6 separate regions of the Homo sapiens genome follow, and all the other regions are linked to region 5. Evidence: fine-mapped expression QTL. A gene starts in region 5. Each other region holds a variant in brackets. All regions are shown on one strand. Distances are between the middles of the regions. Region 1 overlaps LPP (LIM domain containing preferred translocation partner in lipoma). Region 2 overlaps LPP (LIM domain containing preferred translocation partner in lipoma). Region 3 has its middle 42 kb from the start of TPRG1-AS1. Region 4 overlaps LPP (LIM domain containing preferred translocation partner in lipoma). Region 5 holds the start of LPP (LIM domain containing preferred translocation partner in lipoma). Region 6 overlaps LPP (LIM domain containing preferred translocation partner in lipoma).

Region 1 (4,090 bases), 730 kb after region 5:
TCTTCTTCAGAATAAGACATTTTTCCTCCATATTTTCATATTAAATATTAACACTTTATAGGTTCTACTTTAATATATGGACACTTTACAGGTTATACATAAATATTTGCTGGTTGATTGATTTCGAGATTCATTCATTCTGTGCTCAAATATTTGTACCTAGAGACGTTACATGTTAGAAAAAGTGAGCAGCTTCTTTCTCTAATCATTTAGGAGTCCATATTTTTCTTTTCTTTTTGTTCTCCCAACATCCTTATCTCTTACTCAGCTCTTCAATTTATAATTACCAAATAATCACTGTTAGAGAATCAGCCCCTAAGTAACTTTGATTCTGGCCAACTGTAATAAGATCCAACCACTTAAATCTGTACTTACTCAATAGGAAGGAATGTGACATCAGGAAGAGTCATTCCAGTGACATTAGTAAGACTTTATGGAGTACATAAAATTTGATAAGAAATCTTGAGCTGATTCTTTGACTTGATTTAGAAGTTGAGAAAAGAGTATTTAAGGCACAACAGGGAAACATGGGCTATACTCAGAGAAGACCCTCTGCATTGGCCAAAATATCATGGATTCTGGAAATTCCTTCTTAACAGAAAAAAAAGGCTTCCAAATAATCAGGCTGAATGGGAAGAAAAAGGCATAGAGGAAGCCTGAGGAAGTATTTACTTGCTTTTCCCATCTCTTTATAATTGGAAGAGAAGATGATCTGCCAAAATATAACCCAGCATGCACAGTATGGACAGGAAGCAGCCCTCCATGAACTTTATTATCACAGAATATGAGCATTCTTATTGATCCACAGCTACATCTTCTATTCTTGCAGCAAGGGTACATGTCCTTTGACCCTCCACAAAAGAACAAGCAGGACATCTCTATTTTCCTATTGAGTCTGAGTCCATTATTAGAAAGGACTTCCCAGCCATCTTTTCTACTTGGTATTAAAATTCCCTTACAGATTCATTGCTAAGTGCCAATTCTTTTTTTTTCTTTTGAGACGGAGTCTTGCTCTGTCGCCCAGGCTGGAGTGCAGTGGCGCAATCTCGGCTCACTGCAAGCTCCGCTTCTCGGGTTCACGCCATTCTCCTGCCTCAGCCTCCCGAGTAGCTGGGACTACAGACGCCCGCCACCGCGCCCAGCTAATTTTTTTTGTACTTTTAGTAGAGACGGGGTTTCACCGTGGTCTCGATCTCCTGACCTCGTGATCCGCCCGCCTCGGCCTCCCAAAGTGCCAATTCTGACTCTACTTAAACATCACCTGTATCAGGGAGCTCATTATTCCTTGAGGTCTTACATTTCTTTCAGCACATTTTGTTCCAAGCTACACGACTTTAAAACAGAGCCAGCCTTTGGGGCATATGTTCTCTTTGGTGCCACACAAAACCTGTAGTACATGATACAGTGTTGCTTCCCCCCTCCTTTTCCTTCCATATATATTTGTTTTGTTTTGGGCATTGCATTACTTTTTTGAATTTTTAAGAATCTCTAAAATTAGTCTGAAGGATGTTCTGAGGGCCAGACATTAGAATTTGTGAGTTTTTTTGTTGCTGGTTGTACTTTCCTATTTAGAAGACAGACCGTTCTGACAGTTGTTGTGTAGCTTCATGCCTTCCCCAGTAACTAACCCATGAACAGTACACCCCTTTTATCTGACTTGTTGATAATGACCTTAAAAATGTTAGGAAATGGGCCGGGCGCGGTGGCTCGTGCCTGTAATCCAGCACTTTGGGAGGCCGAGGCGAGCGGATCATGAGGTCAAGAGATCGAGACCATCCTGGTCAACATGGTGAAACCCCGACTCTACTAAAAAAAATACAAAAATTAGCCGGGCGTGTTGGCGGGCGCCTGTAGTCCCAACTACTTGGGAGGCTGAGGCAGGAGAATCACCTGAACCCAGGAGGCAGAGGTTGCAGTGAGCAGAGATTGCGCCACTGCACTCCAGCCTGGGCGACAGAACGAGACTCCGTCT[C/CAAAAAAA]AAAAAAAAAAAAAAAAAAAAAAGGTTGGGAAATATTGGTGTATAATCCCCATGTCTAACAAGGAAGAAGTCAAAAGCAAAAGATAGTGGTATTGCCGAAAACTCATTATTTCTAGTTAGTTCATCTGTGGAAAAGGATATCGTTCTTGAGGAGAGGGGTTCTATTATGCTATAGTTTTCTATGGAAATGTACAAATGCTTTCCTCATTGCTCTGGATGACTATTTAGTTTAAATAATATACCTTTGTCATGGGGAAGACCATGATTGTGGCTTCTTCTACCCCAACTTTGAATGAGAGAGCACTGTAAGCAGAAACTGCCATCAGTCTCCTGGGCAGGACCTGGAGGTAACTTTCTGAGCTGTAAAATAGTAATTCCTAAGAGAGCTTACAAACTGCTTCCACACAGAAAATAGCGCAGGGAGGACAGTTATTAGTACCCCTATTCTAGAAGAGAAAGCTGAGGCTCAAGCCATTAAGTGACTTGCCAAAAGCTGTGACATAGCTGGGAAGTGGCAGATTTGGGGATATAACCAGGTCTTGCAAGTCCAGTGCTGTCTCCAAGTAGCCACGCTCACAGCTGAGAACACCTTAGAGGACAATATCGACTTCTTACAGACTACCAAGCCCCCAGTCATCCAGGGAAATTCAGAGACCAATTGACTGCCAGGTGGCAAATCCACATGTGTACTGCGGTCTTTAGAGATCATTTAGAGCTTGCACACATCTGTGTCTTCTTGTGGGAAACCTCTAGGTATTCTGTCTGATCAGCACTGTGAGGAAGTTGGTGGGAAAAGGCCACTGATAAGAACAAACAATGGGCAGAAGGAAGCACATTGCAATAAATTTCCCCAGAGAGAGTTCCTTTACATTCCATTCACCAAAAACCTCTCTGGAACTGTCAGGTTCAGAATATCAACCAAGACCATATCATTTAGAATTCATTGGCATGTAGAGGTGACTCGATTCCTAAAAGAAGCCTCTCTCCCATGAACCACGATGTACGTTCCACAGAGGCAGAAACCGCCGTAGGTTAGCAATGCATTTTAGTCTTTCTCTCCATTCACATTTACTGAGAGCACACCACGTGCATGTTGCTGCAACAGGCATTTCCGATAGAGCCGATCCATGAGCTAACAATGTCTGAAAACAAATGTTATGGAACTGTTGGCATTTCTGAGATTTGGCCTTTGCCATTTGATAGACTTTGCTTCCCAGGATGCTGTCATTTTGTGATTTTTTATAATTACAAGGAATTTGGTACCATGTTGTTTTCAAAAAACCTCCTAGAAAGTCTCCATGTATGCTCTAGAAGTTGCTCTACGTAACAGTTCAGCAAGCAAGTGTTCCTTCTCTTGAGCTGCGTCCCTCAGGAAGCTGTACCTTTAGGGTGTGCTTTCCACTTTTTATTTCCTCTCATTTCACTCCTTTCATTGTTTGCTATATCCTAAAATATGTGAAGTGAGAGAAAAAATATCATTTCTTCTCATTAAATCTCCTGCATTAAATCTAAGAATCCTTTAAAATAATCACACCTGATAAGTGTTTTATGCATTTCCCTCCCTGGAGTGTTATCATCCATCAAGCCAGTATCATCATCCACCTGCTTATTCCTTGGGACTAATGAGAGCCAAGTTAAATAGCAAATGACTTCTCACCCCTTCCTAGTCCTCATGCCTGAGGAATAAGGGCGACATTAATGGGAGCGGGAGAGTGGTGGCTTTGGTTGAGATGCACGTTCACAGACTAGAAAAGTGCCTCACCTCCATGGTGTATATGTGCCACCTTTTCTTAATCCAGTCTATCATTGTTGGACATTTGGGTTGGTTCCAAGTCTTTGCTATTGTGAATAGTGCCGCAATAAACATAAGTGTGCATGTGTCTTTATAGCAGCATGATTTATAATCCTTTGGGTATATACCCAGTAATGGGATGGCTGGGTCAAATGGTATTTCTAGTTCTAGATCCCTGAGGAATCTCCACACTGACTTCCACAATGGTTGAACTAGTTCACAGTCCCACCAACAGTGTAAAAGTGTTCTTATTTCTCCACATCCTCTCCAGCACCTGTTGTTTCCTGACTTTTTAATGATTGCCATTCTAACTGGTGTGAGATGGT
Region 2 (4,090 bases), 200 kb after region 5:
ATTCTACAAAGTCTCTTATCACACAGCCAGGTTATCCACTTAGCAAAATCCTGGCACTAGAATAGCAGCAATGGAGCAAGGCCTGGGACCCAGGTGTCCTGCCTCTATTTTATATTCTTCTTACTGTCCACAGAGCATTATGATGAAGATAGGTGGGGTGGACATTATTATTCTAGTTTTTAATGTATGAAACATAGGATGTTAAGGGAATCTAAGACATAAAACGAATAAGAGATTTAACTATCCCAGATATTGATCACCCTTCCACCACAGAGGGCCAGCTCTTATAAAATACACCCCTTGCCATTTTGCCTGTGTGGGCCTTGCTTTCCTGCCTGAGGAACCAGCACGTACCCCTTCTCCCACGAAAGTCATCCCTGTCTGCTCTTTGGCTCTGGAATTCAGTCTTAGCAATGGACTTTGTTTTATAATTAAACTTTATTTTGTATTGCCATCTTTCCATGTTTCCACCCCCATCTCATCCCTCATACATATTTTAAAGGCTTTGAATTTAAGGATTACTTTCTGCTTCTCTGAGTTCCCTGTAGCTCCTGGCACAGGGCCCCAGACATAGTGCTCAGTAGAGAAGCAAATGACTATGTTCTGCAATAGTTTTTCTCTCTGCCTATTGCTTGTTTCTGAGATGGATATGAGACTTATAGGCTTAAAGAATTTCGGAACTGGAAAGGAAGTTAAAACCTATCTAGTCCAGCTCCCCCACCCCAGGGAAGAAATGACTTACTTAAATTTGCCTGCATAGTTAGTGGCAGTTCTGCAAATCGTGCCCACATCTCACCAAGCATTGGAGAGATGGTTGGCACTTGAGTCTCTTCTTAGGACTCTACAGGCTCTGTCTGGAGTCCTTGTTTCTATGAAGACCACTAAGAATAAAGGTAATACAGGTGCTGCTGCTGCTGTATTAAACAGATGGAAAGAAGTAGACATTCATTGTATGTCTGTTATGTGACAGGCCTTGTGACAGGTGTTTTCACATAGTTTAGCTTGGTCAGTCATCAAAAGCTAGAATTCCCATTCCTCCATGAGGGAGACAGATTGTTTCTAAATAGGACATTTAGCAGAAGCTCTTTCCTGTAAGCTCTGAAAGGCACTCGGTAGTGGATAGATGCTTCCCTCCTAGAACACGGGTGTAGGGCTCTGCAGAGTAGCATGCATGGCTCTTCTAAGGGATATGGATTGTAGAGACTGTGAAAATAAGCAGAAGTTGTGATCAAAATTGGCGTTGGGGGACTTGTGGTCACCCGAGTGTACCAGAAGACTGAGCTCTTCTACTCTCCTTTCCACACATACATCTGAGTCTTTGGAGAGCTGCAACCTGAGTGCCTCGTTCTTGAGTGTCTGTAGCATTGGCTTTTACTTGCACTTACTACATTTTACTCCTGCCTCTTCCCTAGCTAGCCTCGACCTCAACGTGTATTATTTCCTCCCCCCTTGTCATTTTTCTTCTATTACTTTTGCTTCTTCCCCTTCCTCCTTCTCCTGACTTAACCTTGGGTGGCCGCAGGTCTTAAGGCTCTGTGATGGCAGAGTCTTCTGTATTGGACTGTGAAGATTCTGGCAGGGAAGACAATACACAAATCTGTTAAATACACAATAAAAATAGCTTATGATCTATGGGACTTGGTATTAAGCAAGATGATATTAACGAGGTTTGATTGCTGTTCTGAAATGTGGCAGCTGCGCACACGTATTGGCTGCTTTTTCTCCCCACCTTTGGCAGCTTGTGAGCGGTGTTGCCATGACACTCCTTGGGCTCTGTTTAGATCAGCTATTTTCTGAAGGAGTCGCTGACCTTCCCCACAATAGAAGCTGTTGATGTGGTCACGTCAGTGCCTCTTCGGGAGCTGTGTGACTGG[C/T]GAGCCCTCAGTTGCCACTTGGAAACGGTTGGAAACTGTAGATCAGGCACAGACATTGAATGTTTAGGAGCAAGAAGGGCTTGTGAATATCCCGTACTCTCATTTGATGTGTGAGGACAGTGAGGCGCATTATGCGGAGGTGACTTGCTCAAGGCCACAGAGTGCATAGAGAGAAGGCTGGGAGAGGAGGTCAGGTCTTGTTTCCCTGCTTGTTGATGTTCCAGCTGCATGCACGGCACTGAGCCCTGCCTGAGTGCGCACTTCAGTCCTGAAAGCTGCAGAGGGATGGGCTGGTGACACTGCCGTGCCTAGGAGTGGGCAGAGAAGGTGAAGACACGGAGAGTAACTCAGTGCAGAGGCAGCGACGGGAAAGTGAAGGAGAGTAAGAAGCCCAGAGTAAATGGCCAAGGTGCCACTAACATGTCCATCCACAGAAACTTTTCTGGGGGAGAATGTTTCTTATCAGATTCCGCAGATGGGTTCCTTGAGAAGTGAGTGCTTAAAGGGGCTGGGATAGATAATCATAATGCCATGTTCTCACTGCTCTGAACCCTTTTCTGACCTCACGTAAGACCTCACCTAAAACTTCCACAAGAGCCGTTCATTGTCAGTACCATGCTTTTTTTGGAGTACTGTATAATGTCAAGTATTTTTCCAATAGTTTATATGTGAAATGTGGTCTCCGCCACAAGATTACAGGGTCCTCGGGAGCAGAAATTGTGACTTAAATGGGCCTTTCTCCCTTCCACTTTTTATTCTTGCCCTACCTTTTAATCAGGCACCTGGAAGAGATCTAAACACAGGATGAGCATCCAGTAAGTTTTTGTTGAGTTGAACTTAGTTGGATTCGGATGACCTCTAAAAAATGTTTACTAATTGCTGGTGAAAATTGGCAAATGATTATTTTGTGGAAAAATGTTCTCACCGAATTAGATTTTGTTAAGAATTCTTATGTGTGATTATTTTTCATAAACCCAATACACTGTCTATTATTATCCTTATTTTACAATGAAGAAAAAAAATTCAATTGACTGCTCAAATTTACCTCTAGGAACAGGTGATGGAGATTTGATTTGCATTTAGATCTTTTGTCTCCAAATATTGTAATGTTACTTCTGCTTTCCCCCACTACATACCGAAGAGGTCTTACTTCATTGACAGTGGTTCAGCCTTCTGCTGAGGAGTCTTCAGTCTTTTTATGTTGTAATCTGCCTCCTTATGAGTTTGGGAAAAGAATTATGGGGCCTCAGGTTTAAATGCTGTTATGCTTTGGGTAACACTTTAGCTGATTTGTTTTCAGTAAAGCCAGAAGGAAAATACTGCATTTCTGTCTTCTTTAATTTCCTTAATTTGAAATAAGCCTTGAACTAGTTTGTAAGACTCCTTTAACTTTTAACAAATTTAGGCACATATGTAATATAAAGAAAAAGGCACTCTGCCCTAAATGAATTGACTAATTAAGCTGAGAACAAAACTAGACCACTTTTTTTTTTTTGGTTTCAAAAAAAGGATGCAGGAATTTTTAAATGCTACAGCTAAAACCCAGATTTTGTCTGATATTGATGTTCTGTAGGTTTTCTCAATATTTGCCATATTCATTAGATGACATTCATTATACTTTCCTAACTTTTATAGGATTTAGATGAGGTTTGTTGATAACATTCTATATTCTTTCTGAAAAGAAAAACACACACACACAAATGTCGAGCAGTCTTCTTTTTTTAATGTATATTCTCAGGAAAAACACCATTGACTAATTTAAATTTCAGTACGGAGGCAAAGCTGATCTGTAGTGAATGTAACATCTTGTTAAATACAGGTTTCATGCTTCTTTTTTGTACCTTTCCAGGCTTTTAAGGAGGAGAATAATTTGAATAATAATGGCATAATGTCCAGAGGGAAAGTTGAATACGTAAGACAGAGATGCATGTGGGCCTATTTCTGTACTTTGTGTGCGTGTCTCTGTGTGGTGGCTTTATGGTTTTTAAAATAAAGTTTTCTGTATTTTCAATGTATATAATAACTTTGGAATCACCAAAGAAAAGTTGATATTGAGACTTGGGTTTTTAGTGGGGAGGAATGGATGTTTTTTTTCTTTTACAGTTTTAGGCAAAGTGAAACTTTAGAAAATTATATTATTTGAAGTTAGATGGAAACCAAACACTATCTTTATAGTTTCTTTCAGAAGAAACTTTGTCTTAGGAATCTGGGCACTC
Region 3 (4,090 bases), 750 kb after region 5:
TTTTTTTTTTTTTTTTTTTTGAGACAGAGTTTTGCTCTTATCGCCCAGGCTGGAGTGCAGTGGTGGGATCTTGTCTCATGGCAACCTGCACCTCCCGGGTTCAGGCGATTCTCCTGCCTCAGCCTCCCAAGTAGCTGGGATTACAGGCGCCCTCCACCACGCCCAGGTAATTTTTTGTATTTTTAGTAGAGACGGGGTTTCACCATGTTGGCCAGGCTGGTCTCGAACTCCTGATCTTGTAATCCTCCTGCCTCTGCCTCCCAAAGTGCTGGGATTACAGATGTGAGCCACCACACCCAGCCTACACACATATATCTTAAAATGGAGTTGTAGTATATATAGTTTTATATTTTCATTTTTCACTTAACGGTATATCCTGAAGATTTTCCCTTAACCGTATCCTGAATATGTTGATACCTGTTCTATAGCATCATCTTAGTAGCTCTGCTGTGCTCCATAGCATGGTGGTACCATGGTTTATTTAACCCTCAGTTTTTGGACATTGAGATTATTTCCAAGGGTAGTAAGGGCATTAAAAAAAACATTGTCTCAATTTTGCCTTCAAAAATAGGAGAAGGTTAGCATACTGCATATGAATAGAGAAACAAATACTTATACTGTTTCCTTTCACTTACAGAGACCATTGCGGTAACAAGAAAGAGAGAGGGGAATCTTAAATCAAGACCTCTTGACTCCTCTGTGCTGTTAATAGGTAAGGGCCTGCATAGAACCTGTTCATGAATCTCAGTTAGGCTAAGGTAGAATTGAAAAGGAGAGCCAGATGAATTTGAAAAATACAAAGTAAGACAAATAGCTTGGGGATGTGTAGCCAAAGAAGAGGCCAAGAATAAGGAATCCTGGAAAAAGAAAGACAGGAGGAGATGGAAAGAGGCTTAGACATGGGGAGAGGAGTCCCCACTAGGCAAGGTAGTTGTCTGTTGGGATGTTAACCCTTCCGTTGCACAAACCTTCAGAAAAAAGTTGATCATACTCCTTGCTGTGGCCCAGGTACTTGGAAGAGTAAAGGATATTTGGGGTGGGTTGTATTATGCAGGGTGATACATTGTAAAAAAGGGACAGCAGGGACAGGTACGAAATATGGAGTAGGGATAGAGAATTAAACAGAATTTGGAGGCAGAGGCGAGTAGGAAAACAAGAATCGCCAGAGATATTGGTATTTGGGTCAGAAGGTTTTCACTGCATAAGAAAATTGGCTGATCCAATCTTGTTTAAATATTAAAGGCCAAAATGATCTCAGTAGAATAAAGGACTTTAGAAATATCTAGTCAGCAGACGCTTAAATTATGCTTTTGGGGGGCTTTTATAAGCAAAACTACATTGAACACCATTGTAGTTGAATATGTGCACATATCCTTAACTTTTTAAAGGCTAAATAATTAGAAACGAATTGCTAGGTACAAGAAAATTCATGCTCTTAAGGCTTCGGATACATACTGTCAAAAATACTAACAGGAAAGTTTTAATAATCATTTACTGTGTTACCATATAATCAATATGGTAGGACAGTTCTTTTTTCCCCATTATTTCACCTACATTGATATATATTCTTCCTTTTTTCCAGGAGAGGTAACTGAGATGTACCATGTTCACAGAGTGGTATAAATGGAACCACAGCCCAGGGGTTCTATTTATAGAAACTTCTGACTTCAAGTCCAGAGCTCTTCTTTTTTTTTTTTTTTTTTGTGAGACAGAGTCTCACCCTGACGCCCAGGCTGGAATGCAGTGGTGCAATCTTGGCTGACTGCAACTTTTGTCTCCTGGATGCAGGCAATTCTTCTGCCTCAGCCTCCACAGTAGCTGAGAATACAGGAGTGCCACCACACCCAGCTAATTTTTGTATTTTTAGTAGAGGTAGGGTTTCATTATATTGGCCAGGCTGGTCTCAAACTTCTGACCTCGTGATCCACCTGCCTTGGCCTCCCAAAGTGCTGGGATTACAGGTGTGAGCCACCCCGCCCGGCCTTGAACTCTTATCTACCTTGCTACTTCCTTTATCAGAACTGGGATAAGAACCTTTAGAAGACTCAACCAGCACTAGTCCTGATCTTTTCACTCCTCTACTTAATCTCAATGCTGCTAGTTTACCTATTTTGCTCTCTCCTGCCTCAGGGCCTTTGCACTTGCTTTTCCCTCTCTCCCCACCCATCTTTTTTTTTTTTTTTCTTGATAGTCTTGTCTCCCAGGCTGGATTGCAATGGCGTGATCTCAGCTCACTGCAACCTCTGCCTCCTTGGTTCAAGCAATTCTCCTGCCTCAGCCTCCTGAGTAGCTGGGATTACAGGCACGCACCATCATGTCTGGCTAATTTTTTGTATTTTTAGTAGAGATGGGGTTTCACCATGTTGGCCAGGCTGGTCTCAAACTCCTGACCTCAGGTGATCCATCCTCCTC[C/T]ACCTCCCAAAGTGCTGAGATTACAGGCATGTGCCCGGCCACCCCACCCATCTTTATTTAGGCAACTTCTGCTTATCACTCAGGTTGAACTTAAACATCAATTCCTTCATGACTCCTAAATTTTGGGTTATGTGCTACTATCAAGTGCTTCTACAGCACTTTTTACTTCCCTGTTAGAGAACTTATAAACTGTGTTGAAATTCATGTCTAATGATCTGACTTCCCCATTAATTTTTAAGCTGCGTAGGACAAGACCCATGTTTATAAAACCCAAGATCAGATCTTGCTGAGCAGTGCTTGCCCCTTTAGACTAGAGAGGTTCACTCTAGGTTACTAAAATCCCAGCCACTTCTGAAGGTTTTTATAAGCAGCCCATTTCACCCATCCATGTTTCTTGCTTGGCATCTGTAGGCATTTGAGTACATGATATCTGCTGTAGACAAACATGTTTCCTGTTAATGTTAGGAAGAATCTTCCAATACTGAATTATCTGACAATGGAGAAGGCCCTCTATTTACGTTGTAACAGGATCTTCTGTATGTGCTTCTTCATAACACCCGGTCCTCCCAATGTGACTGGGAGGTGCCAGAGGGCAGGAATGAGCCATCCTCCCAACCAGGGCATCTCACACGTGCCAGGTGGTCTCTGAGTGTGTGTGGAGCCAAATTGAACTAAACGACTGTCTTGGCAACATACAACTTTCCAAGACTCAACAACTTGCTTTCAGCCCAGCCAAAGGCTTGCCGCTCTGAGGCAAATGTCACTGTGGTGGAGTTGTCTTAATGAGAAGGCATGCTTGCTTCTCTTCTGGGGGAGTTTCCTAGAGCGATGCTCTTAGAAACTCCTTGGCAGGAATCCTTAGCCAGGCTTGGCATTGACAGCGTCCTCCTGCTGGCATTAACAAGCCTCTTATTTAAATGGAAATGAGCTCTCAGTGCCAGTTTGTGAGCAAAACACATCGCTTGTGTTAAACCAGAGCTGGGAATGCTACAACACACCAAATGTCGGCTTGGTTTCCACTTCCCCACCACATCCGTAGTTCACAGTGTAGCTCTCTTTGCCTCGTCTTCTCGATCTGCAGTGTTGGGAGTCCTTAGGCAACAGGAGAATCTGTGGAGTCTGGGGGCCTATTTGTAGCTTCAATATGACCTTCAAAAAGTCACTTCAAGGTGCAAAATAATAATAATAATTAGGACATTATAAAACTATTAGCAGTATCACACCGAATCCCAGTCAACAGAGGGGCCTTCAAGCAGAGGGTCTGAACCACGTCTCGTGGCTTGCTGGCGGTGTCAGTCCAACTTTCCCCAGGAGCCTACCTGTGCTGTACATGCTCTGACCCTTGTGCACACTCTCTCTTTTCTTCTAGATCAGTTCTATTTCCACCCAAATACACATCATTTGTTGCCTAACATCTGGTCCTGCTTAGCTGGTTCTGCACTCAGTTACCGGGTCCCTATTGTTCATGTTTTATCCAATTTCTTGTTTTAGCACTTCTCTCTTTATTTCAGATCTTTACGGAATAGACTTGGTGCTCTTCTGATACCTGGATTCTAGCCACCTCTCTCTAAGATACCCTAATGGCTGGCATATTTACAGCACAGATCATGCTAGATGCTACATTGTTTCTGTTTTTACGTGTCTAACTCAGCTGAACTATGTGTGCATCTTAAGGCCC
Region 4 (4,090 bases), 470 kb after region 5:
TTTTTGTATTTTTAATAGAGACAGGGTTTCACTATGTTGGCCAGGCAGGTCTCGAACTCCTAACCTCAAGTGGCCCACCCGCCTTGGCCCCCCAAAGTCCTGGGATTACAGGCATGAGCCACCGTGCCCGGCTGAAGATACTATAAACATCTTGATTTTTTACTGAGTCAGAAACTGAGAAAGGGAAAAAATTATTTGCTGAAGACTGCATGCCTCAAGTTTATACCCATTATACTACACTGCCTGCTTGCGAAAGTATGTTTTAAAAAATTGTCACTGCTGTGCAGCAACTCAAATTGTCACTGCTGTGCAGCAACTCAACTTTAAGTCTTAAACCTAGTTATCTTTTATCTTGAGCAGGACATATATGTTAAGCTGCTGAGGATGCTCCTTAACATGAGGCCATTGGGCGGGTGTGTGCCAGACAATCCTCCTAGTTGTTTCTCTAATACAGAGCTTCAGGTCGTCTCTTCCTTTTTCATCTTCTAGCCTGCCCTGGCCAAGTACCTATGAATCAACCGGCAAGGCGAGGGGTGTATTTGGTGGGCTATAGAGTGGAATTAAGCAGAATATCAAAAATTTTAGCCAATAACATTGAACCTCAAAGAGGAAAGTACTGCTGAGTTCTGATAGATGCAAGACAAGCTAAAGACCTCCTTAGCTCCATTGTTCTGCATCAGCACAATATGTCCTAGTGAGAAGGAAAGACATAGCAAAACTAAAAATGACCTGTTTTTCAAGAGCAATGTCTTTTCACCCAAACTTGTGAACTGCTTGCCAAAAGTCAGGACTAACATTGTTTTGTACATTTGCATTAAAAGAAATTATATCACCGTTGAAGAGCTGATCAGAGAAAGGGTATAGGAAAAAGGAAATGTTAAAATAAGCTGTAAAATCCAGCCCATTTATATCTGGAGTTTAGAGGCAGTCTAACAAAATGAATGTTCCATTTACTAATCACATTTGCCATTTATTCAAAACAAACACGGCTTGAGAGAGGATTAAATAAACATCCAAAAACTGTCGTTCTTGAAACCTTTGGATAGAACATTGAGTTGCATTCCTGCAGGAGAAATGCCAAGTGAGTGAGCCTAGTCCAAGTTTGTTTAGAAAGCCATATTTGGGAGAACCATGGAAGTGCGAACCTGATCATGTGAAAAGCCCAGGACTGTTCAGCCTTCTGTGGCAGTTCTGTGAGTTCTAGTACCAGACTATTAATAGGGAGTCAAGTAGAAATATCCTTCCTTCCCCTCCCTCCCTCCTTCCCTTCCCTTCCTTCCTTTTCCCTTTCCCTTTCCCTTTCCCTTTCCCTTTCCCTTCCCTTCCCTTCTCCTTCTCCTTCTCCTTCCTTCCTTTTCCTTCCTTCCTTCCTTCCTTCCTTCCTTCTCTCTCTTTCTCTCTTCTTTGGTGTGCTGAGAATAATCTGCAGACAGTGACTCTACAGATAAGATTGCAAATATTTTCCCTTCCTTCATTCCTTCCTTCTTTCCTCCCTTCCTTCCTTCTTTCCTTCTTCCTTTTTTTTCTTTTTTAACCACATGATTTCTATTTCCTTTAGCAAGATGTTATCATGTGAGGGAAGTCTTAGGTTTCTATATCCCTTTATTCTTAGTGTTAGCATTTCTTATTAAAGACAGATGTCTAGTTTTCTATTTTAAGGGTTATCTAATTTCAGTCATAAAAATGTCCTATAAATTAAGACATAACTTTGTCAATACTCTTCTAGAACATAATAGCTACCCCAAAATATTTGTTCAATGATGGGAAATTCATTGATATTTAGACCTTCAGAGATGAAATAAATATGTTGCCTTTGCTTTTCAAAGATGCCATCTTGCCCATTCATAAGAAAACTAAGACCCACAGAATGACTACCCAAGGCCTCACAGTATAATTAGGACTTTAACAAAAATCCATAAAACCTCTGGTATTGGGATATTTAAGATAATACATTGATATATACTTTATCACTGTCTTTGATAAAATAACAGTAAAACCATTTTAATGGGACACATTTTTATAACCATTGTGAATTTGGTCCTCAAAAAAGAACTCACTGAGATGATGAGATAATGCATATTCATCCTCTTTTACAGATGATGAAACATTTCGGAGAAGGCAAGTCAGTTTTCCAATTTTTCATACTATATAGATCATTGAATCTTTGTCCCTTATATACAGAATCAACAATATGAAATATGTGGAACTTGAAATCATAGTTTCCAACTTTTCTGCCTATAGAATGCCCATTTCCAGTTGCTTAACATTTAGATTGATAAACATGAAATTCATTAAACAGGAAACTGAATAAGAGACCTGGACTAATATTTAGGTATTACTTAGTATTCCATCCAAGAAGTGTCTGCAGACAGTGACTCCATAGATGATAAGGTTGCACATATTTCAGAAGCCAAATAAATGTTGTGATTAAATGATTCAAGTCTGTTAACCATTTGGTAGTTATGATGTAAATGGCTGTTAAATGGAAAGCATTTGTAAAAATGTATGTGCAAAAA[T/G]AAAGGATTTCTAACAAACCGAATGGGCCTTACCTATTTTAGTTAATACTCTCAATAATGAGCAGTGAGATTAATTTATAAGTATGTGTGTGTGTGTGTTAAGATATATTCACATTTTATGAAACCTGAAGCTTTGAAGCTTATCACTGTGGAAATAACTTCTGTATGCATAAAAGTATTATATTATTTCGGTAGGACTGCTATAACAAAATACAGTCAGGCCTTCATATTCAAGTAGGCTGCATTCAGAATTCAACCAACTGCCAATGGAAAGTGTTTGTAAAAAATAACAAGTAACAATAAAATATTAGAAAATACTACAAATTTCAAAATACAATATAACAAGTATTTACCTAGCATTTACATTGTATTGGGTATTTTAACTAATCTAGAGATGATTTAAACTATGTAAGAGGATATGTGTAGGTTACGTGTATAGCATATCATATATATAAGGGATTTGAGCATCCATAGAGTTTGGCATCTGCATGGAGTCCTAGAACTGATCCCCTGCAGATATGAAGGGACAACTGTACCACAAACTGAGTGACATAAACTACAGATTTTTTTTTCCTCACAATTCTAGAGGCTAGAAGTCTGAGATCAAGGTACTCACAAGGTTGCTTTCCTCTAAGAGCTTTCTCCTTGGATAAAAATGGCCACCTTCTCTCTGTGTCCTCACATGGTCTTTCCTCTGCTTCTCTGTGTCCTAGTCCCTCTTTTTATAAGGACAACTCCAGTCGTATTGGATTAAGGTCCACCCTAGTGCTCTCATTTTAACTTAATGGCCTCTTTAAAGGCCCTTTCTCCAAATACAGTCACAATCTGATATACTAGGGGTTAGGACTTCAACATATTAATTTGAAGGGAGACATGACTCAGCTCATAACAATTATGTAGGCAAATGAACATTTATTTTAAATGACAGAGGAAATGCAACATGTTATAAATTAATAAAAGCTATGAAATACCTCAAAAATCACATTAATAAAAGCTATGAAATACCTCAAAAATCACAAAAATCTTGAAAAATAACACTCTTATGAATTAAATTCCTGATTACTTTTTCTTACATTTTTAGCAGCATATTCATTGATTAACTAACTGTACAACCTAATTTCATAATATTTTCTGCAGAGAGAATACAAAGATAATTTCATGCTGAGAGTTTATTACTACCAGTCCTGCCTTACAACAGGTCCTTAAGGGAATGATAAGCATGAAAGACTGTTACCTACTTCTACAAGGACACCTTTAAGTACATAGCCTGCTAACACTATAAAGCAACTATACTATCAAGTCTACATAAGAACCAGGTAACAACATGATGGCAAGATCAAATGCTTATATATCAGTATTAATCTTGAATTTATGTGGGCTAAATGCCCCACTTAAAGGACACCGAGTGTCAAATTGGATGAAGGAGCAAGGCCCAACTCTATGCTGTTTTCCAGAGTCCCATCTCACATGCAGTGACACCTTTAGGCTCAGAATAAAGGGATGGAGAAAGCTCTATCAAGCAAATGGAAAACAAAATAAAGCAGAGGTTGCTATTCTATTTCAGAAAAAACAGA
Region 5 (4,090 bases):
AGGTCCTGCTAGAGGTCAGGGCCAGGTATGGAAAGATGAAGGGATTAGTCAGGAGACCTGGATGGGAGGAGGGGAAGACAGGTGCTTGGTCAGTCAGTTGTTTTGTGTTGGGCGAGTAACGTTTCTTAAGTTTTTGTCTGAGGTGTAAAGGGGGGACTACGCTCTGTCCTATCTAACTCACCTGAAGATGCAATAGCCGGGTGAGAGACTGCTTTCATTATGTGCTAACGTGAGGGATTACTTTAGATATTAATAGGAGAGAAGTGCAAGGAAAGGAAGTCTCAGGGTATGGAATGCTTTCCTGGCCATGGCTGCTGCGCGTCATAATCCCCTAACACAGTTAAGTGGTGGTTCTCATCGTCGTTCACCCTTACAGATGTCAGAGGGGAAAGAAAAATCCAACTCAAAACTTCCAATGACAGGCTTGTCTGTATTCAAACCAGTTCATCTCGTTCGCAGACTTTTTTGAAGCTATAAGCACAGAGCAAGCTTTCTGGGCGGGGCTCAGAAGTAAACGTTAAACTCCAGGGATTCATTTATTTGAGCACAGGACAGAGGAAGTTGCCCTGAAGCAACTGATTGTCATTGATATTCAGGGCTCGCTGTCAACCAGGACCTTCCAGGAACTGGCTCTGGGCCAAGAGCAGTAGAAATCACTGGGTGGTCCGCACAGCTCGCGGGCATCTAACCTGCTTCAAGGCTCAGGGCTAAAAGGGAGCCAGGGCCCTTCCTGGAGGCGGGAACCCAAGTGGGAGGCAGAGCGCCTGGGCCCGCTCCTCGATCTGCTGAGTGACGACCCTGTACAAGTCATTTCTCTTCCGAGAGCTTCAGTTTCCTCACGTGCCAAGCGGACGGGTTGGAAGTTGGTCTTTGCCAGCTCTGACACCTTGTAAGTTTTGAGTCTTGCTGGGAATCCAGGGCGGGGCTCACGAGGAAAATCTTGGAAGGGGATTTCATGGCTGGATCTCTTCCACTCAAGCTCAGTGCCCTAATTTGACGCCTTAATAGTAGACGCAGGCTTTTCCATTTTCCAGGAGCCCCCTGACGCGGCCGCTTCCTCCTACGTCTCCTTCCTCTTCCTCTAGCAGGGGCAAAGTCTCCACATCTCCCTCTTTCTCTTCCTCCTTTGCAAGCTCCCTGCATTCCCGCGTCTCCTCCTCTTCCTCCCAGGAAATGCAATGCCCTCAGTGCGCCCACCTTTTGGCAAAGCCACTGCCGGCTGCGGGTTTCCCCTCCCCCGCCAGGCGAGCTCTGCGCGGCGGCTTCGCGGGCACACGCCTTCCCATACCTTACATGGACAAATGCGTGCAGGCAAAGTCAGGAATTCAGGCCCCTGACGTCAGCCTCCAGCGCTCAGGGCACCGCACGGGAGACCAAGGGGAGGGGGTGGGGACGGTGGGGAGGAAGGAGGGGGAAAGGCACCAACCAGCAGCCGCTCCAGCCCTGCCGAAGTTTCACTTTTTGTCTGTGGGTTCGTTCCCGGGTCCCGCGCGAGCTTTCCCGGGATAAGTAGCTTTAGCGATCGGGAGACAGCCGGGCGCTGCAAGGTAAGGGCTGGCTGCACGGCCCGGGGCGCGGGGCGTGGGGCGCTGGGCGCGGGCGGCGCGCTCGAGGAGGCCAGTGTGGGGCGCGGGGCCGGGCCTGTCCGGGGCTGGGGACAATGGGAGGGGGAGTGCCCGGGCACCTCCTCCTCTGCCTCTGCCTCCGCCTCCAGCCGCCGCCGCCGCCGCCGCCGCCGCCACCACCACCGCCGCTGCCCCGGCTGCCTCCTCCCTGAGGTATTGTTGCAAATCCTTCCTTCCCCTCACCCTCCACCCGCGGGCGCCTCGGGAACCCCCAGCCCTCCCCCGGCGCGAGCGCCTCCGGGGTGGCAAGAGCGCAGGGCGCGCGCCCTGCTCTGGCCTGGCCCGCTGTGCGGAAGTGCCGGCCGCGGCCCAATCACGGGGTGCACGCCATGGGGGAGGGGGACCCAGAGTTTTTCCAAAAGCGTCGACCCCAGGCTAGGCGGGGTTGGAGCCTTGCGCGCCCCCTGCCCGGACTTTTCTGGGCGCCCAGGGGGCGGGGCCACGCCCATCCGCTTAGAGCTTTCGCGGAATCACAGTTGTCACAGCGGAAAGGGCCTAGACCCAGTCCTCCAAGTCCTCCCATTTTACAGTTGGGGCAGCTGAGGCCCAGAGAGAAGGAGGGTCGCCCGGAAGTTATTTACTAGAGGCCAGACCATAATTCAAATAGTTGGCTCCGGACTTAAGTTCCCTTTCTCTAAGCATTTCTCTAGCACCCTGTGTGTGGCAGACCCTGTGCTGGGTGTATTGGACGTTGCCCTCAAGGAACTCAGTTGAACCTGGGAGTCAAACCTGGCCTAGGGTAGAAAATGCTAAGTGCTGGAGCAAAGGCGTGGACAAAGTTAAAGGAAGTTCCAGGGAGGGGGTTTGATTTTCTGGTCCCTGGGACGGCCTTTTGGAGAGTCCTGCACTGAATGGGGTTTTTGGAGGTTGAGGAGTTTCCTGAAGCCAGCTAGCGGCTTGGAGGAAGACATCTCTTCGAGGGAACCGTGGGCCAGAGAAGACTAAGTAGTGTGGGAAATGGAGATGAAAGTATAAATATTCTTTAGTTGGAGGCAAGGGGTTGGGGATGGGGGAGGTTGTGATATGAGATGAGCTAATCAGTGGAATTGTGCCTGGGTGCTTGGACAGGGCAGAGTCTTTGGAACCTCGGAGTCGTAGGAGAACTGAAAAATCTCTCTGGCTTCCCTTCCCTTAGAAGGGATCCACTGCTTTCCCTCCCCCAACACAAAACAACTAGCGAGAACTCAGGGTCTTCTCTGGGGCTTTTGCTAGTACCAAACTCACTTAACTGTGTTTCCAGTCCCCTTTCTCTTTCCATTCCTTCCCCTTTTACTAAATCTCTTGCCTTTCCTGTAAAATTCACTCTCACTAAGGTGTTGATGACTTAATGGCTTACCTTTCCCTGCACATGTGCATTTTAAGAAAGCCTAAAGTGAAGAAGGGGAAAGTGTGGCTAGGCACCTTTACAAAGCATCTAGCTCCCTCTCCCATCCTCCCCCTTCCTCAACTCTTATAGATAGAAGAATAGGTAAAGGTCCACGAAGGTGGGTGCTAGACCTAGAGCCTATGGTCAATAATGGTGGACAGTGGGGGGTTAGGACATCCAATATGGTTTTCTCCACTTCGTCACCAGTTTTTCTGCTTGCACAGTTCCTGCCAGCACCAGGGGGCAGTTAAAGGAAAAAGTGTGTGGGCCAGGCACGGTGGCTCACGCCTGTAATCCCAGCACTTTGGGAGGCCAAGGCGGGCGGATTGCCTGAGCTCAGGAGTTAGAAACCAGCCTGGGCAACATGGCAAAACCCTGTCTCTACTAAAAATACAAAAAATTAGCTGGGTGTGGTGGCGGGGAACTGTAGTCCCAGCTACTCGGGAGGCTGAGGCAGGAGAATCGCTTGAACCCGGGAGGCAGAGGTTGCAGTGAGTTGAGATCACACCACTGCACTCTAGCCTGGGCGACAGAGGGAGACTGCCTCTCAAAAAAAACAAAAAACAACAACAACAAACAAAGGAGAGTGTGCATTTTTGCATTTAATTTCTACAATGCAGGCCCCAACCCCAACACCCAAAACTTTATAGTCTAGAATGTAGGCTCCAGAGGGGATTACCTATTCTGAATGGTAGGGGTAAAAGCCTGGGGCCTTAGGGTCTGGCAGTCCCCCCAGAGGCAGGCTCTCTGTAAGCAGCATGGGTCTAGAGTTGGTTTTGAGTGTACGCAGAGGGAGGAGAAGCTGAGCTGATGAGCTGATTGCTGTGGCTGGGACTTGAGTAGGATCTTTCTTAGAGTGACACATTCTGGTGAAGACAGTTCCAGGAAATGATGGACGGGAGAGGAAACTTGGTTATAAAGGGGCTTAAAAATGCCAGGCTAAGGAGTTTGGATATATCTTAAATTCATCATTTGAGGGTTTTGAGCAGGCTGAGACATGATTTAGAGGGGAGGTACTGGCATCGAGAAGCCCCCTGCTGCCCAATTCCAATGAGAGAGGTAATAATTTGGCCTAAGAATATTATTGGCTTGGCACGAT
Region 6 (4,090 bases), 720 kb after region 5:
AGATGACCAAGATCATCCCTCTCTGAGCCTTCGCTCTGTTGGCTGTAAAGTAGAAATGATAAAAATACTTCCTCATAATGTTGCTGTCAGTAGAAAATTACGTCAAGTGTGTACAGCACTTAACAGGGCTTGGCACATAATAAGCACTCAATAAATGGTAGCTTTAATCATCGAAAGTTGTTTTCATCAAATTTACTTTTACGATTATTGTCCACTCAGTGAGCTAAGCCTTGAAATAGACCACCTGGGATTGTGAGCCCTCCTCGAATTGCTATCGGAGGAACACTGTGGGGACTATGAGAACCACCTCCTGCCTCTTCGCTTTGGTTTTTCTCATTATGGAAATGAGGCCAATTGGTAGGAAAGAATCATTACTCAGCAAGAATACAGTTTATGTCTTCCCAAAGAGGAAGAACCTTGAGATTGAACATAAAGCCCAACTAATATCTTTTTTTATACAGAAATATGGCAGATTCATTTCATTAGATACAGCCCAACTTTTTTTTTCTGCACCAGTCACAGTGGTTGTTCCTGGAGACTCAGAGATGGAGCAAAGTCCTATCTTGTGGAAACTTAGAGTTTAGTGCCCCATAAATATATCCAAATAATTACTACCAAAATGGATAAATTCAATGACAGAATTCTTATCTTAGAGGAGTAAATAATTCTATTTGGGGAAATTGGAGAAGGCTTATGGATACACTGAAAAGGAAAACATACTTCTGCTCCCACAGAGTTTGGGGAAAGGAAATTTTGCAGTTGATCCCAGAAGCCTACTTATTTCACCACTGATGACCCAGATTTAAAAATAATCTGGTAGTCCAAAGCAATTTTTTGCCACTGAATATAAACTTCTTGCATAAAATACCAATTATAACAACTCTGATTACTGCTGCAGTGGTACCATGATCCTTCTAACTTTTCTTTCACAGCAATCAATTGATCTGCTGCTTAATTCATATTTATTTAGATTGCAGCCATACAGATGCTTTTTGGGTGCTGCCAGGAAAATTAATTACCTACATATAGAATATAATGTATGTAGAAATGCTTTGACAACCGTAACGTGCTCTGCAAAGAGTTAGATTATTATCATTATTTCTTTTTAAGTCTCACTACAAATAGATAAATTTTTAACATCGTTTATCTTAAAACCAGTACCATGAAAAAACTGAGTCACAGTCTGTTTTTCTTTTTTTAAATCTCTTCAGTTCTTATCCAGGTCCATTTCAAATAATATGTCATTTCATACCTTCACAAATACCATCTCCAATTTCCAGAAGATACAGAGAGATACATGGCTTATATTTTCAGCCAATTAACCTGTCATAGAAAAAAAATTGTTAGGTACCATTGATCATATTGAGAAATACTAAGAAATTAATAAGTATTAAAAGTATTTACCAGCAGCCTCAAAAACATATGCATATGCATATTTATATGTATATGTATGTGTATGTGTGTTAGTATACACTCACCCTTTAACAGTGCTAAAATCCTTTAAAGAATAAAGAATTTGATAGCTCTTTAACTTTTAATTTTTAAGCAAAAGTTTAACACAATAAAAAATGTAGGAAATGCAGACTTGGCCACTTTTAAGTTTTGTGTAATGTATATTTAAACGCACTAACCTCTGCCCTTTTGAAAAGCTATGTATTTGAGTCTTCTTATGTCAGTTCCTAGAAGTCAAGGCAAATTTCCAAGAAAGAAGCTCTAAAAGGTGGGAACAAGGCAAAGATACCAACCTCAGACTATTTTTCTAGGACCTAAGGAGTGCATACAAAAGTCTAGAAACAAAAGTCAGAAACAAATAGGGGCTGGACAGGACTTTGTTCTCTCCTCCAGTTAGCCTATCCCAAGCACAGGGTTTGCATTCAGAATCTATCTAAAGATGAATTTCATACCGCGCACCATGCAGGAAAGAGATGCTAGATGCTCTTCATGCCCAAGCAATTCACACGCTCACTCTCTCACCTCGCCAAATATCACAATATTTACCACCGATTGATGGAAGAACCTCCACAGTCCCTGAGTCTAACTCCCTCACCTTACGGATGAGGAAGCAGGTATACCGACTCTCAGTTTCCACCTCTTCCTTTTACCTCTGCGTCCCACCTCAGTGTCGACGCGCAGTATCTAACCAGAACTCTCTCTTCACTTTCAGGAAATTTGCCCCGCGATGTTCTGTGTGCAAGGAGCCTATTATGCCAGCCCCGGGCCAGGAGGAGACTGTCCGTATTGTGGCTTTGGATCGAGATTTCCATGTTCACTGCTACCGATGCGAGGTCTGGTTGACAGCCCTGCCCTGCCAGTCTGTGGCAGGCGTTGAAAGGCTCGTTCGAGCTAGGTTTACATAGATGTAGCAATTACTAAATCTCAGAACGGCCTTAGTGCCTGTACTCATAGGACTTGGGTTTTAGATTTGACACTAGTATTCCGAGCACATGCTGTTGAATAAGTCACTGTACCTCTCTCAGTCTGCTTGCTCACCG[G/A]AAGAAAGGACTCAAGTCCTTAACTCCTCCAAATATGGCTGTGAGAGTGAAATACAAAATTGTATATTAAAGGACATTGTAAATTGTGAAATACTAAATTAGTGAGAAATGGTGTTATTGAACATTTAACTTTGGCTCTGAGGCTTTGGTTAGAACTTCTTGTTCAGAGTCATGGAGATTTATTTATTTGTTAGCATGCACTACTAATTGCTCAGTTTCCTGAACGCCTCTAGAGCTGCAGTATATCTGCATGTTCTTTTCAGTAAAGCCAAACTTCCCGCAGAGTATAACCATTGCTGCTATTGTGTTCTGGATACCCCGTTAACTTAAATTTCATTCTATGTCAAATGAAGACATGAACTCCATTGACCTCCTTGCCACCATGGTAGATAGCAGAGGCGAGGTTCATAGCTGTTGTGGCCTTTGAGAGTTTATACTAAAGTTAGCAAACACACACCTCTTGATGAAGTACTATGTATTTATTTTCCAAAGAAACTTCTATTTTCTCCAAAGACAAAGGCCAGCATTTAACTGTTATATAACACTTTTCAAAATGGACCCTAAGAGGAGCTGTCAGCGGTAGTATATTCCTTTACAGTTATGCAGTTCTTTGCATTTTTTTTTTTGATCCATTATCTTCTTTGATCCTCTTAACAGCTTGGTAAGGTAGAAAAGGCAGAAGTTATTTTCAGAGTGGCAGTCGGCCTGTGTGCATTGAGGCAGACTGTAGCAAAACTGTGGGTGGTGCTCAGGAGGCCTGTCCCCTGGACTAGCAATCTTTGCTCTCCACAATGCTGTCTCCTTTAGAAAGTACAGCAAACCACTACTCCCCACAAACTTTAGGATTTTATTTTCTTACTGCAGTTGAAGTAAATACACCGAACCCACTGGTGGCCCTTCTGCTTGGCAGACATCAGTCTACCTTTGCTCTAGGCCAGAAATGGCCAAAACATTCCATTCCTGTACCTGTGCATGCATTTTGAGAGATCCTTAAACTAATGGTAAAGGGTAAAAAATGCATCGGTGGTTAGGGACATTCTTATTTTCTCTTGTTGAGTGGGGGCAGCAAACTTCTACATGGGAGCCAAGATGGGTGGCCTCTTCTCTTCTTATACCTGTATTTCATATCAAGTGAGCTTAGGAGGATTATATTTATGTCCATTTATATTTATGTCCCCAATCTCTAATTCAATTACATTCAAGATATACTATGTTATATATTGGGAGAAAGGATACAGGGGATTAGCAGAATGTAAAGCAGGAAGGATAGTAAGTGGCCACATTATGGAGGCCTTGAATAGAAAGCTCAATCATGATGTTCTCCACATGTGTACTTAACGTTTTTACTTATGTCGTTTCCATCTGTCTTTACTGTTCTAGGATTGCGGTGGTCTCCTGTCTGAAGGAGATAACCAAGGCTGCTACCCCTTGGATGGGCACATCCTCTGCAAGACCTGCAACTCTGCCCGCATCAGGGTGTTGACCGCCAAGGCGAGCACTGACCTTTAGATTCAGTCACCTGTTCAGCCGGCACTGAGAAGAACGAACACAAGAAAAAGATAAGAAATACTAGAGTAAAGGCCATCAAACTACGCGAT

The links. PIP is the estimated chance that this variant, and not a neighbour inherited with it, causes the effect.
Region 1: its variant is fine-mapped to the expression of LPP in whole blood (INTERVAL, PIP above 0.99).
Region 2: its variant is fine-mapped to the expression of LPP in skeletal muscle (GTEx, PIP above 0.99).
Region 3: its variant is fine-mapped to the expression of LPP in whole blood (INTERVAL, PIP above 0.99).
Region 4: its variant is fine-mapped to the expression of LPP in whole blood (TOPMed, PIP above 0.99).
Region 6: its variant is fine-mapped to the expression of LPP in whole blood (INTERVAL, PIP above 0.99).

Annotation. Positions count from the first base shown.
Region 1 is chr3:188,881,760-188,885,849 of GRCh38, forward strand. LPP (LIM domain containing preferred translocation partner in lipoma) reads left to right here. Exons shown (of 12, transcript NM_001375462.1): 12 at 1-4,090. Among named protein-coding and RNA genes, the nearest start is that of TPRG1-AS1, 64 kb to the right of the region's middle. RefSeq lists enhancers at 606-1,107, 1,108-1,607. The variant C/CAAAAAAA (reference allele first, on the strand shown) is at 1,973.
Region 2 is chr3:188,350,605-188,354,694 of GRCh38, forward strand. All of the region lies in intron 3 of LPP (LIM domain containing preferred translocation partner in lipoma), which reads left to right. Among named protein-coding and RNA genes, the nearest start is that of FLJ42393, 170 kb to the left of the region's middle. The variant C/T (reference allele first, on the strand shown) is at 1,875.
Region 3 is chr3:188,903,160-188,907,249 of GRCh38, forward strand. No RefSeq gene overlaps it. Among named protein-coding and RNA genes, the nearest start is that of TPRG1-AS1, 42 kb to the right of the region's middle. The variant C/T (reference allele first, on the strand shown) is at 2,413.
Region 4 is chr3:188,623,425-188,627,514 of GRCh38, forward strand. All of the region lies in intron 7 of LPP (LIM domain containing preferred translocation partner in lipoma), which reads left to right. All of the region lies in intron 2 of LOC124906316 (a long non-coding RNA gene), which reads right to left. Among named protein-coding and RNA genes, the nearest start is that of LPP-AS1, 57 kb to the left of the region's middle. The variant T/G (reference allele first, on the strand shown) is at 2,517.
Region 5 is chr3:188,152,475-188,156,564 of GRCh38, forward strand. LPP (LIM domain containing preferred translocation partner in lipoma) reads left to right here and starts at 1,683. Exons shown (of 12, transcript NM_001375462.1): 1 at 1,683-1,778. It overlaps LPP-AS2 (LPP antisense RNA 2), which reads right to left and starts at 1,614. Exons shown (of 1, transcript NR_036497.1): 1 at 1-1,614. RefSeq lists enhancers at 218-1,118, 2,918-3,816 and a silencer at 1,551-1,890.
Region 6 is chr3:188,870,479-188,874,568 of GRCh38, forward strand. It overlaps LPP (LIM domain containing preferred translocation partner in lipoma), which reads left to right. Exons shown (of 12, transcript NM_001375462.1): 11 at 2,165-2,285; 12 at 3,873-4,090. The coding sequence ends at 4,001. Among named protein-coding and RNA genes, the nearest start is that of TPRG1-AS1, 75 kb to the right of the region's middle. The variant G/A (reference allele first, on the strand shown) is at 2,493.